Homo sapiens: one gene and its partner. The protein of the gene in region 1 interacts with the protein of each later gene in a pairwise test. Each region holds a gene or a part of one and is shown on either strand. Other genes may lie near its edges.

Region 1 (3,530 bases):
CCCCTTTGCTGGTCTCTCACTGTCTCTCCTGCTGCCCTATAAAGAGGTTCCTTCCATCATGATTGTAAGTTTCCCGAGGCCACCCCCAGCCATGTGGAAATGTGAGTCAATTACACCTCTTTATAAATCACCCAGTATCAGGTATGTCCTTAGAGCATCGTGAGAATGGACTAATACACCTCCCATTGGGGTTAGGACTTCATCATATGAATTTTGGGGAGACAGAAAGATGCAGTTCAGGCTGGGTACAGTGGCTCAGCCTGTAATCCCAGTACTTTGGGAGGCCAAGGCGGGTGGATCACTTGAGGTCAGGAGTTTAAGACCAGTCTGGCCAACATGGCAAAACCTTGTCTCTACTAAAAATACAAAAATCAGTCAGGCATGGTGGCGCATGCCTGTAAACCCAGCTACTCGGGAGGTTGAGGAGGACAGTTTGAACCTGGGAGGCAGAGGTTGCACTGAACTCCAGCCTGGGCAACAGAGCGAGACTGTCTCAGAAATTATAATAATAGGCTGGGCGTGGTGGCTCACGCCTGTAATCCCAGCACTTTGAGAGGCCATGGCGGGTGGATCACGTGGTCAGGAGTTCGAGACCAGCCTGGCCAGCATGGTGAAACCCCATCTCTACTGAAGATACAAAAAACTAGCCGGGCATAGTGGTGGGCACCTGTAATCCCAGCTACTAGGGAGGCTGAGGCAGGAGAATTGCTTGAACCCTGGAGCCGGAAGTTGCAGTGAGCTGAGATTGCACCATTGCACTCCAGCCTGGGCGACAGAGCTAGACTTCGTCTCAAAAAAAAATAATAATAAAATAAAATATAATAATAATAATAAAAACAAAGAAACATTCTGTTCATAACCAGGGAGGACCCTGAGGCAGTGGTGAGGAATGCGGGCTTTATCCCAAAGGTGATGGGGAACCTCTTGCGGGTCCAGAGCAGGGAGGAGCAGGTGCTGTGGTCCTCAGTTCTGTAATCACCTCCTCTTGCCTTCCTGCCAGTGAGATTGCCACACTCCAGGAGCAGCTGATGACCTCAGAAGCCACTGTCCACAGCCTGCAGGCCACCGTGCACCAGAGGGACGAGCTCATTAGGCAGTTGCAGCCCCGGGCTGAGCTGCTGCAGGACATCTGCCGCCGCCGGCCACCCCTGGCTGGGCTGCTGGATGCCCTGGCTGAGGCTGAGCGCCTGGGGCCCCTGCCGGCCAGTGACCCCGGCCACCCACCCCCCGGTGGGCCTGGTCCACCCCTTGACAACAGCACTGGGGAAGAGGCGGACAGGGACCACCTCCAGCCTGCAGTGTTTGGGACCACAGTGTGAGCCCGGAATGCAGATTACAGAATGGAGACAGAAAGCCACTGCTGTCAGTGTCCTTGGGAGTCACCAGCACCCTGCAGGGGGACCCTACGGCAGAGCCAAAGTCCTGTCTAAGCATCAGAACAGGCTGAACAGTCAAAAAGTTTTCAAATAGGCCCACAGGCCAGGTGCAGACGTTTAACCCAGACAGAAGTGTTCTTGTTTGTTTTTAAGCTTTGAATCAGTCACCCTTGCTAAAAACCTGGCAATGCAAACACAAAGATCTGGATTTCTGGCAAGACTTGGCCAAGCTTGCCTGGAGTTCAGGGCACCCTCTTTAGCCAGGGTGTGAGTTTCTGTTTTTTGTTTTTTTTTTTTTAAGACAGAGTCCCACTCTGTCGCCCTGGCTGGGGTGCAGTGGTGCGATTTTGGCTAACTGCAACCTCCGCCTCCCAGGTTCAAGCGATTCTCCTGTCTCATCCTTCAGAGTAGCTGGGATTACAGGCGCCCACCACCACACCCGGATATTTTATATTTTTGGTAGAGACCGGGGAGGGGAGGGGGTTTCACCATGTTGACCAGGCTGGTCTCAAACTCCTGACCTTAGGTGATCCACCCGCCTCGGCCTTCGAAAGTGCTGCAGTTATAGGTGTAAGCCACCGCGCCCGGCCCTAGCCTAGCTTTTGTAGCATGCAACTGTCTCCTTTTTATACGCCCTAAAGAATATATTTTTGAACTCCTTGTTTCTGCGCTGTCCTTCTTAGCCCAGGACATTCAGGGTGCTTTGCTTGTTGTCAAACCAGGGAAAGGAGAAAACTCCTGTGCCTTTCTGGGCCAGCCTGTCACCCTGGCCTGGTCGGCAGCCATTCCCCTACCTCCTCACTCAGGAACTGTCACACCAGGAACCGGCGAGGGGCACAGCCTGTTTCAGACCAGAAAGGTCGGAGGCCACCCACGGCCTTCAGGATGGCGCCCGCCTGCCTGCCTGGCAACAGTGACCCCTCAGTGCAGTAACAATGGGCCCATTTTCTCCTCTGGATGAACAAGGAGGGGGGTTGTTTGTACAAAGGAAAGGCAGGCTGGGGCCTGTCTGTGCTCAAGAATAAACCGGATGATTTCCTGGCCTGGGGGCAAGAGGGAGGCCCTCTGTGTTATTTGTGCCTCCTGGTAGGGTCCTGCTGGGCCAGGTAGAATCTAGGGAGTGTAGGCCAAGCACTCTCTACAGCGATTGCATCTAATCTTCGAGTTTCCCTGTAGACACAGGCTTTGTCCTCATTTTACAGCTGTGGAAAGTGAGGCCCAGGCCGGGCGCGGTGTCTCACGCCTGTAATCCCAGCACTTTGGGATGCGGGTGGATCACCTGAGGTCAGGAGTTCGAGACCACCCTGGCCAACATGGTGAAACCCCGTCTCTACTAAAAATACTAAAATTAGCCGGGCTTGGTGGCGGGTGCCTGTAATCCCAGCTACTGAACCCGGGAGGCGGAGGTTGCAGTGAGTGGAGATTGCACCACTGCACTCCAGCCTGGGAGACAGAGTGAGACTCAGTCTCAAAGAAAACAACAACAACAACAACAACAACAACAACAACAACAAACAGAGGCCCAGAGGTGTGAAGGGAACACACTCCGGGTCTGGAGGGCCAGGGCCACTTCCAATTCTGGGGGAAGTTATTGCTGAAATTCTGTTTTCTTTCTTTCTTTCTTTTTTTTTTAAAGAGACAAAGTCTCACTGTTGCCCAGGCTGGAGTGCAATGGTGTGATCACAACTCACTGCAGCCTCAAAATCCTGGTCTTGGCTGGGCCAGTGGCTCACACCTATAATCTCAGCACTTTGGGAGGCCAAGGCAGGTGGATCACCTGAGGCCAGGAGTTCAAGACCAGCCTGACCAACATGGTGAAACTCCGTCTCTACTAAAAACACAAAAATTAACCGGGTGTGGTGGCGCGTGCCTGTAATCCCAGATACTCGGGAGGTTGAGGCAGGAGAATCACTTGAACCCGGGAGATGGAGGCTGTAGTGAGCCGAGATTGTACCACTGCACTCCAGCTTGGGCGACAGAGGGAGACTCCGTCTCAAAAAAAAATCCTGGGATCAAGCTATCATGCTACCTCAGCCTGCCAAGTAGCTGGGACCATGGGCATATGCCACCATGCCTGGCTGCGTTTTTGCATTTTTTCTAGAGATAAGGTCTCATTACATTGCCCAGGCTGGTCTTGAACTCCTGGCCTCAAGT
Region 2 (3,441 bases), on another chromosome or scaffold:
TGGGAGGCCGAGGTGGGCAGATCACCTGAGGTCAGGAGTTTGAGACCAGCCTGGCCAACATGGTGAAACCCCATCTCTACTAAAAATGCAAAAATTAGCCAGGCGTGATGGCGCATGCCTGTAGTCCCAGGTACTTAGGAGGCTGAGGCAGGAGAATCACTTGAGCCCAGGAGGTGGAGATTGCAGTGAGCCGAGATCACACCACTGCACTCTACCTCAAAAAAAAAAAAAGAATTTCCCCCCACCAAAAGAATGCAGGAGATGCTGTGCAGCAAAATCTGTAGCTAATGTCTTCGGTTGGAGTTATAAGTCACCAGGGATCAGCAGTGGAGGTAGTTCAGGCTGCTGGGGGTTCAGGATTGTCTTCATATGAAAGGAATACTTAGGGTAACATTTCCATAATGTGAAAAGAACATATTAAAACACTAGTTGATTACAGCTTTCTGTATGTGTGTGTGTGTTTTACCTTTCCTATGGTGCTGAAGCTTTGTGTTTTTTAAAGGTGTTTGATCAGAGTGCGCTTTCAACTGAAGCTAAAGAAGAAATGTACAAGCTGTATCCTAATGCCCGAAGAGCTCATCTGAAAACAGGAGGCAATTTCCCATACCTGTGCAGAAGTGCAGAGGTCAATCTTTATGTACAGGTAAGGCCTAGCTTGAAACCCAGAGCACTCTGAGCCCAACATATGTTTGCAACATAAAGACTTCTTTTAATGGACTAGTTAGGGAATCAGTGAACTACAGAATTCCTTGTAGAAATGAGGCATTGACTTGATAAAAGTGGTTTACATTTATAACTTGTAGGAGAATTTGAACAGGTATATTAGAGATCCCCCAGTGACTCTCTGGCCACCATCCCTTTTCTAAGGACAGCAGGCCTGCATTCACACACTGAGGTTACTATTGGTATGATGTGACCTTGCCCTCTGGACACAGTGAATTCCATCAGAGCAAGACACCAGACCTAAATGGGGTCAATCTGAGTCCTGTGAAGTGACTTCTTGATCTAATTTTAATGCATTAAAAGAAAACCCTACCAGGCGTAGTGGCTCATGCCTGTAATCTCAGCACTTTGCGAGGCTGAGGCAGGCAGATCACAAGGTCAGGAGGTCAAGACCAGCCTGGCCAATATGGTGAAACCGTCTCTACTAAAAATACAAAAAAAATTAGCTGGACGTGGTGGTGCACACCTGTAGTCCCAGCTACTCGGGAGGCTGAGGCAGAAGAATCACTTGAATCCTGGAGGCAGAGGTTGCAGTGAGCCGAGGTCACGCCATTGCACTCCAGCCTGGGCAACAGAACAAGACTCCGTCTCAAAAAAAAAGAAAAGAAAAGAAAGCCCTAACAAACACCATCCCTTCATACTCTAACTAAATGGATAATAGAATAGCAGTGAGGGGTGAGTGCCCTGGCAGTTTGGCAAGATGAATCAAGAGCCTTAAAAAACCAGTTATATCCTGGCCACGCATGGTGGCTCACACCTGTAATCCCAAAAACCAGTCATATCCCTTGATCCTGTCATCCCCTTATAGAAGACAGGATCCTAAACAGGAATACTTGATGCCCAGAGATATTCATCATAGCAGCACTAGTCACAGTAGCAGAAGATTGGAAGGACCTAACTCACAGCAGCAGAAGGGAAGGGTAAACATCTCATGAGCATGCACCATCTAAGATGTCTCAGGAGACTCTGCAGGGACTCAGGGAGACTGCTCAGGGAGTGAGGAACAAAGATCCCAAATGTGGTTTCAAAAAATTGTTTGACTTTTCTCTATTTAGTATGTCTTAGTCTGTAAATTTTAGAAGTATAAAACATTTGTCCACTATGGTGATGTTTTCCTACCAAACTTTTTATAGAAGGCAGTATACATTTTACTCTGTAATGCAGCCATTTAAAACAATGATTCTGGCAGGGTGCAGTGGCTCACACCTGTAATCTGGCACTTTGGGAGGCCGAGGCAGATGGATCACTTGAGGCCAGGAGTTCAAAACCAGCCTGGCCAACATGGTGAAACCCTGTCTCTACTAAAAATACAAAAATTAGCTGGGCATGGTGGCGGGCACCTGTAATCCCAGCTACTCGGGAGGCTGAGGCAGGAGAATTGGGTGAACCCGGGAGGCGGAGGTTGGAGTGAACCAAGATAGTGCCACTGCACTCCAGCCTGGGCAACAAGAGTGACACTCCAGCTCAAAAAATAAATAAAATAATGATTCTGCATTTCAACAGATACATTTGCTGCAATTCCATGGAACCAAATACGCGGCCATTGACCCATCAATGGTCAGTGCCGAGGAGCTTGAGGTGCAGAAAGGCAGCCTTGGCATCAGCCAGGAGGAGCAGTAGTGTGTCTCTCGCTGTCAATGATGAGTTGACCCGGTGTGTTCTTGTATAGTCAGTGGCATCAGCACCCGTCAGCCAGCCTTTTCCTTCAGGTTCGTCAGGCTCACCGGTTCTCACTGTGTCTGGGAAGTAGGACTGATGGTCATCTTCATGACAGGCGGCATCTCCACTAAGCCTGTGTAACTGTTCCCTCTTTGGTTTTCTTAGCTTTTGAATTTGAAGAAGTACTTTTGAAGACTCCCATTTTAAGAACCGTGCAAATTTTGCTACCAAAAGTCTTCACCACTGTGTTCTTAAGTGAATGTTAATTTCTGAGGTTTGGGACTTTGTGGTGGTTTTTTTCTTCTTTTCTTTTCCATTCTTCTTTCTTTCTTTTTATGTTGTTTGCTGTAAATGCTGCACATCCAGATTGCATATCAGGACATTGGTTATTTTATGCTTTCTTGGATATAACCATGATCAGAGTGCCATGGCCACTACCCCACTGTTTGCTCTCCTGCAAATCAACTGCTTTTAATTTACACTTAAACAAATTGTTTTGAGTGTTAGCTACTGCCTTTCTAGATATTAGTCATTTGGAATAAAAATTCAATTTAACTGAGTCGCTTTTGTGATTATTGTTGCTGCCCAACTGGGCTACACAGGCCTAGGACTTTCTGAGAAGTAGGTCATGGTTGCCAATTCTGTGTGACTTTGGGTAAGTTACTTAATCTCCCTGAAGTACAGTTTGCACATCATAAAATAACCCTAAGCTATCATTTATTGATCTGCTACTGTGTGCCAGGTACTTTTCTCGTCTTCTTTCCCCTGAGTGAAAATGCTTAAACCCACATGAAGTAGAGAAAATGGCATAATGAATGATGTTCCCATCATCCAGCTTCAAAAATTATCAACTCTCAGACAGTCTTGTTCATCTTTTCTTTTTTTTTTTTTTGAGACAGAGTTTCGCTCTTGTTGCCCAGGCTGGAGTGCAATGACGTGATCTCGGCTCACCGCAACCTCCGCCTCCCGGGTTCAAGCAATTCTTCTGCCTCAGCCTCCCAAGTAGCTGAGATTACAGGTATGCACCACCACGCCCGGCTAATTTTGTATTTTTAGTAG

Evidence for each region. Proteins that work in one complex are often made in the same cells at the same time.
Region 2: the proteins of VMAC (region 1) and SPG21 interact in binary tests that used the Homo sapiens proteins (3 or more experiments, as listed by UniProt).

The regions. Positions count from the first base shown.
Region 1 is NC_000019.10:5,907,824-5,911,353, forward strand, and holds the end of VMAC (vimentin-type intermediate filament-associated coiled-coil protein), read left to right. Parts: intron 1-1,000; coding exon 1,001-1,319; 3' UTR 1,320-3,030; downstream 3,031-3,530.
Region 2 is NC_000015.10:64,962,522-64,965,962, reverse strand, and holds the end of SPG21 (maspardin), read left to right. Parts: intron 1-502; coding exon 503-643; intron 644-2,226; coding exon 2,227-2,343; 3' UTR 2,344-2,941; downstream 2,942-3,441. UniProt on the Homo sapiens protein: May play a role as a negative regulatory factor in CD4-dependent T-cell activation.